Linked DNA regions of Homo sapiens. The protein of the gene in region 1 purifies or fractionates together with the protein of each later gene. This does not show direct contact. Each region holds a gene or a part of one and is shown in the gene's direction. Other genes may lie near its edges.

Region 1 (3,600 bases):
TTCTAAGCAAACTCAAACATCCTGCTTTTTAAGATTCTGGCCCTAAGTAAGGCACAGGCTCCCCGCTGTTCCCCTCCATCCACCTTCCCATCTGTGGCCTATCCAAGAAAATGAATGCTGTCTTCACAAAGGTCCCACAGTGGAAACAGGAGACAGGCTTCTGAGTCAAGGAAACATCAGTGGGAAAAACGCCAAGTTGGAATTTTTCGGATGAAGGGGTGGCGACTCAACATATTTAAGTCCGTTTCTTAGGTAGATGAGTAGATGGTAAATTCTGTAGCAAAAGCTGTTTCTTTGTTTTGTTTTGTTTGATGCTGTTGTTTTGGTAAGTGCTACTGTCTTCACACAACAGACCTTTCTCCTGTCTTCTGCAGCGGGACTATTTATAAACTGTGTACCAGTGCTACCCCAGTCAGCAACCTCCAAAGCCTGCATTGTACTTGGTAAGGTTCTCTATCAGTATCACTAACCTGGAAAAACTGACTGTGAAGAAACAGCTTGATTATACTGGCTGCACATGTAAATGTTCCAAGAATAATTTCTAACTCAACCCCTTTGAAGTTATTGTTTTTTCCTCCATTAGATCGGTATTAGCATCTGGCTAAATTTTGTATCCTCCACCTCCACCTCCACCTTCCTGAACACATAAGTACTTATACACACACACACACACACACACACACACACACACGTTTTTTTTTTCCCCCTGCAGGTTTCACAGCTGGTGGCTGAACAGAAACAGTCTCTGGGTTGAGACTTTACACTGGTTTCCCTGACCTGGAAGAGTGAAAAATCTAGATTATTTCAGGAATTTATTGTAAGCTTTCCACCCTTCTCTGTCTCATCATGTCTTATCTACAAAATGGGGTGTTGGGGAGGCAGGAGCCCTATCTTTCTGATCTAGCATCGCCTTAGGTTGAGATATTAAAATTTCAAAACACAAGCAAGCAAATAAAAAAAATAACAATTTGTTGAAAGAATCAACTGGGTAACTATAAACAGGATTCTAGGTGTCCTTTAAAAGGAAGATATTATTATCAAGGAACAGAACCTTTGTAGAATGGCGCTTTGGGGGCCTGGGTGGGTCCAGAACTAAGGAAGTTTGAGTTACTGCCAAGCTACAGTCCCAGGCCCTGCGGGGAGTCAGGTCCAAGTTTGAGAAAACAGTCATAGTCAGGGGCTATTGTGGCCTGGACAGAGGCAGAAAGACACGACACAGCAGGCTTCCTTCCTGTCTTGCTCTTATCTGAAGTTGCAGAGAGTGGGTGGGAGTATGCCTGAGGTGCAGGTGAGGCACGTTTAGCCTGAGCCGGCCACGGACTCCACTTCCCCTGCTCTTCCCCCAGTGGCAAATCCGCGCCACCTCGCAAACCCCCAACTCAGGCACTTGGGCCCCTTTTGGGCCCCCTCTCGCTCCTCCCTTTAGGCACCTCCCTGGGCCCGCCCACGGTCTCCCCCCAGTTTGGGACTGCGTCATAAGTATCCCAGACCTCGGCTTGCAGTAGTGTTAGACTGAAGATAAAGTAAGTGCTGTTTGGGCTAACAGGATCTCCTCTTGCAGTCTGCAGCCCAGGACGCTGATTCCAGCAGCGCCTTACCGCGCAGCCCGAAGATTCACTATGGTGAAAATCGCCTTCAATACCCCTACCGCCGTGCAAAAGGAGGAGGCGCGGCAAGACGTGGAGGCCCTCCTGAGCCGCACGGTCAGAACTCAGATACTGACCGGCAAGGTAGCTGTCCCAGGGCGGGATGGGGGAGGGGTGGGCGAAAGAAAGAAGGCTGGTAGCAGAGGAGAAAATGTAGCTTCCCTGGGAGGGCCCCTCTTGCTCCTCTTACGCTGTCTCTGGGGTTTACCCGGTCGCCTCGGTTCTGTCTCCTTGCGGCACCTTCTGCTTACCGCACCCTCTGTCACTCTGCATTCCCGCGTGTCGTGCCATGTTCTGTCTGTTCCAGCTCACACCAGCTGTCCTGGAGGGAGGTCAGAGAGAGTTTGAGGAGATGCCCTGGGACTCCTTGTCATTGTCTCTTGGGTAACGTGTAGGGACCTGGGGATCAAGGAGGGGCATGTCGCCCAGTCCCCACCTCCAGGGGCGCGCATAGTCTCCCCAGGGACAGAGGGGACACAGGGGGGTGAGCAAGACCGGGAGATTTAACATTTCTTTCTTTCCTTTTGGTGTGGATGAAGTTCTAAGACTAAATCTTTCTATGATCTCTGAGTGTTCGTGGAGGTGGGGTGAGCAGCAAAGGGCACTTTTAACTCCAAGCAGTATGGGTTGGGGCAAGTGGTCTGCTTGAGCGCGCGAATATTTTCCGTTTCTCTCTGGTCATAGGTGGCTTTAAACATTAGATAAAGAAGCTGTCAAAATTGAGGTGGATCTTAATGCCAGTGTTGGGTGTTCACTGTGCCCTTTTACTGCAAGAGCCTTGTATATTTTTAGAGTGGTATTTCCTAAAGAAAACACTCTTCTCTTGTAAAAATAAATTTGAGGATACTTTTCAATTATTTTTAAATTTTTTTCTTGTTGAACAACATCCCCTTCCCTCTATTTAGAGATCTGAAGCAGGTCCAGTGTTGTAATTTAAACTACTAGCTTTGACAGGAACTGGGGAAGCTCTTCCCCAAAATGTTATCCATTATTTATTTAGTCCTATTTCTACTTCTTTTAAACACCTACTATGTTTTCAGGGTTCGTATACTACTCCTCAGTATAATCTCAATTTTAAAGGGCAATAGTATTGTCTTCGTGTTCTATGAAATCTGGAAAGTGTTGGCGCTTGCAGATCTGTCCTGACTTGTCTTGTTCTCTATATAGTTTTAACTTCTGTGTTCAAAGTGGAGATATAAAAAGTCCTTTGAGTTAAATGAGAATCCATGTAGTAAAAGTTGATTGTACACACAATTTGAAATGTTAATGTGCTTATCCAGCTTTTTATTATGGAAACTTTCAATATTAAATCCTGCAGTAAAACTAGCTTTTGTGTGTTATACATTTTAGAGCTCAAAAGTAACACCCTCTTGCATTGTTGAGGTTTTGATTAAATGACAGAGGTCAAATATGTAATTGTTCTCCTGCTTAGTTTGTAGGTTAAACATGGTCAGATTTTTTGGGAGGTCTAATTAGAGGCCAGTAGTTAAATATAGCCACACAGTAATCCTTTTTTTTTTTTTCTTCACCGCCAAGCATTTCATGACTTGTAGATAGATTCAGTTAATATGCAAGCAATACTTCTGCCAGGATTGTGGGTGCGATGAGGAATAAGCAAAACTGAGCATTTGCACTTTGATTATACTTTGCTGTTACGTTTTGGAGAAAACTTAACAGGATCCTTACCTGGCCACTATAGGACACTGATAATAATATTTGACATATTGTGTTGTAATACATTGATCAGCTAGCTCATTAGAGGTTGAGCATGACAAATATGATGTCAGACATAGTGTACAATCACTTCGAAAGAGTTCCAAGAGAAATTAGCTATGGTAATTGATGGCTCACACCAACCTAAAGTCCAATAAATGTAAATGAAAACAAAAAATCCTTATTTCTAGGATGTAACATCTTATGAAATTGAAATTCTAATACTTAGGCCTTGCTTAAT
Region 2 (3,671 bases), on another chromosome or scaffold:
AAGCCCGGTGTAGGCCAGCCTGGCTCTCTTTGTGGGTAACCAGGATAAATAGAGATCTCCACGTGTGTGACCTGTGAACTGAAAAGCCAGCCTGGAATGGAAGAGCGGGAGAGCCCGTCCTCTGAACTCAGAAGGAAATGCCAAGTCGGATCTGTCTGGCATCCTCCACAGGCTGTGAGAATGTGGCCTGCTCCTGTAGCATGGACAGAGAAGTTGCTGTTGGAATTGACTGGATGTGGAAATACCACAGGGAAATAAAGTGTCTCAATGACAAACGCATGTATGGCAACAAAAAGAAGATTTGAAAGGGAAGAAAAAAATAAAACCCACTGCTGTAGGACACATGTTAAGAAGCAACTTTTAAGAATTCAGAGCCTGGGCAGTTTAGGGAGACGTTGTCCCTGCAAATTATAAAAATCAGACAGGCGTGGTAGCGTGTGCCTGTAGTCCCAGTTACTCAGGAGGCTAAGGCGGAAGAATCACTTGAGCCCAGGAGGTCAAGGGCGACATAGTGAGACCTCGTCTCTACAAAAAAATTTTAAAATTAGCCAGGCATGGTGGCACACACCCGTAGTCCCAGCTACTCAGGAGGCTGAGGTGGGAGAATCACTTGAGCCCAGGAGGTCAAGGGTGCAGTGAGCCGAGATTGTGCCACTGCACTCCAGCCTGGGCAACAGAGTGAGACCCTGTCTCAAAAAAAAAAAAAAAAAAGTCGAACCACATAGCTGCTAATACCTAATAGCCCTCGGTCAGTTTTCTTCCTCCAACCACATTTCCCCTCTTCAGGCTAGTGCCCAGCCAGTTCTTCACCTCAGTCACCCTGGAATAGACCAGCTATCTATGTGATAGTTTTCAGTTACCTGTTTCTCCCTATGTTGAATTCATTTATTTATTTATTTAGAGACAGGGTTTCTTTTTGTCGTCCAGGCTGGAGTGCAGTGGCACAATCATGGCTCACTGCAGCCTCAAGCTCCTGGGCTTGAGCGATCCTCCTGCCTCAGCCTCCTGAGCAGCTGGGACTACAGGCGAATGCCACCACGCCCACCTAATTTTTAAATATTTTGTTAAGACAGGAATCTCGCTATGTTGCCCAGGTTGGTCTCGAACTTCCTGGCCTCAAGTGATTCTCCCGTCTCAGTCTCACAAAGCATTGAGATTACAGGCATGAGCCACCATGCCTGGCTTGAATTGTTGTGTTGTTTGGTTTTGGGTTTTTTTGGTTTGTTTTTTGTTTTTTCTTGTTTGTTTTGTTTTGTTTGTTTGTTTTTTGTTTTTTGAGACGGAGTTCTTGCTCTGTCTCCCAGGCTGGAGTGTAGTGGTGTGCTCTTGGCTCACTGCAACCTCCATCTCCTGGGTTCAAGCAATTCTCCTGCCTCAGCCTCCTGAGTAGCTAGGATTACAGGCACACGCCACCATGCCTGGCTAAATTTTGTATTTTTAGTAGAGACAGGGTTTCACCATGTTGGCCAGGCTGCTCTCAAACTCCAGTAGCCGGGCTGTCGTCCCAGCTACTCAGGAGGCTGAGGCAGGAGAATCACTTGAACCCGGGAGGCAGAGGTTGCAGTGAGCTGAGGTTGTGCCACTGCACTCCAGCCTGGGCGACAGAGCAAGGCTCTGTGTCAAAAAAAAAAAAAGAAAGAAAGAAAGAAAGAAGTTATATTAATAAGAGAAGGAAAAAAAAAACCACGATACACAGGCATACTCAGAAACACCTGTACTTCCTGCAGTGCCCTCTGATGCAGCATTTTATTTCCTGTTTTCTTCAGTTTCATTTTGTTGAAAATGCTGGTCAGGACCCACTGGGTTGGACCAGGGCCGAGCAGGCTGCTGCGCCGTTTCTAATGTGTCTTCTCTGTCCAGGTATACCGCTGGGCCGACCACTCAAGCACGGTGCTGCAGCGGCTGAACGAGCAGCGTCTCCGCGGGCTCTTCTGCGACGTCGTCCTGGTGGCCGATGAGCAGCGTGTGCCAGCCCATCGCAACCTGCTGGCCGTGTGCAGCGACTACTTCAACTCCATGTTCACCATCGGCATGCGGGAAGCTTTCCAGAAGGAGGTGGAGCTGATCGGCGCCTCCTACATTGGGCTCAAGGCCGTGGTGGACTTCCTGTACGGCGGGGAGCTGGTGCTGGATGGCGGCAACATTGACTACGTCCTGGAGACGGCTCACCTGCTGCAGATCTGGACGGTGGTAGACTTCTGCTGTGAGTACCTGGAGCAGGAGGTGAGCGAGGACAACTACCTGTACCTGCAGGAGCTGGCCTCCATCTACAGCCTCAAGCGGCTTGATGCCTTCATCGATGGCTTCATCCTGAACCACTTCGGCACGCTGTCCTTTACGCCCGACTTCCTGCAGAACGTCTCCATGCAGAAGCTGTGTGTCTACCTGAGCAGCAGCGAGGTGCAGCGGGAGTGTGAGCACGACCTCCTGCAGGCCGCCCTGCAGTGGCTGACGCAGCAGCCCGAGCGCGAGGCCCACGCCCGCCAGGTGCTGGAGAACATCCACTTCCCGCTCATCCCCAAGAACGACCTGCTGCACCGCGTCAAGCCGGCCGTGTGCTCGCTGCTGCCCAAGGAGGCCAACTGCGAGGGCTTCATCGAGGAGGCCGTGCGCTACCACAACAACCTGGCGGCCCAGCCCGTCATGCAGACCAAGCGCACGGCGCTGCGCACCAACCAGGAGCGCCTGCTGTTTGTGGGCGGCGAGGTCTCCGAGCGGTGTCTGGAGCTCAGTGACGACACCTGCTACCTGGACGCCAAGAGCGAGCAGTGGGTCAAAGAGACGCCGCTGCCCGCCCGGCGGAGCCACCACTGTGTCGCGGTGCTGGGGGGCTTCATCTTCATCGCCGGCGGCAGCTTCTCACGGGACAACGGAGGGGATGCGGCCTCCAATCTTCTTTATAGGTATGACCCCCGCTGTAAACAGTGGATCAAGGTGAGATTAAAGCCAGATTATTTCTTTTCTCTTGAGGACTCTCTCGGTTTCCTTAACCTAGCCTTGACTTTCCTTACCTCTCTGGGGCCTTGACAACTATCCTGCTTCTGAATGAGGTGTGATGATAAAGTGACGAGCAGAATACCCCGGGGCCTACATCCTGGACAGGGAGAGGGAGAGCCGACCCACCCCTTCGAGGGGTCCGTCATCGTTCAGAGCAGCACTGCCTGGCGGGGCTTTCTGTGCAGATGGAAGGGTCTGTCTGTACTTCCCGATACGGTAGCCACAGCCGCATGTGGCGACTGAGCACTTGAAATGTGGCCAGTGCGACTGAAGAAGTCAATTTTCAATTTTATTTCACTTTAACCGATTGACGTGTAAGTGTATGTGGCCGCACGAGGCGTGGCTACCCTATTGGACAGTAGCATGGGTCTAGATGTTTGATCCATGGTTCAACATCCCCAGGTCCTGGAGTCTCTGTGGGGCTCCTCTGGAAGCATTTTGGGAGATAGTTTAAGGAGACCACTAGTGCTCACGCCTGGCCCTTGGGCATGTATTGTGTCCTGATTCTGGGAAGAGCGTGGGCCTTGATGTCAGACCTGAGGTCTCATCCCAGCCTGGCTAAGTCATAGCTAGGAAATTTCAGATTCTTGTCCTCTCCACATTTTGGATTCCCCTTCTGGGAATACGTGGGGGACAGGGAGTGCAGTAGCTCATGTTGACTGGCAAGCCCCTGG

The links. Proteins that work in one complex are often made in the same cells at the same time.
Region 2: the proteins of ITM2A (region 1) and KLHL36 purify together in Homo sapiens (affinity purification with mass spectrometry; 2 studies listed by BioGRID and IntAct, with this or other methods). This does not show direct contact.

The regions. Positions count from the first base shown.
Region 1 is NC_000023.11:79,365,235-79,368,834, reverse strand, and holds the start of ITM2A (integral membrane protein 2A), read left to right. Parts: upstream 1-1,500; 5' UTR 1,501-1,619; coding exon 1,620-1,730; intron 1,731-3,600.
Region 2 is NC_000016.10:84,655,011-84,658,681, forward strand, and holds part of KLHL36 (kelch-like protein 36), read left to right. Parts: intron 1-1,860; coding exon 1,861-2,934; intron 2,935-3,671.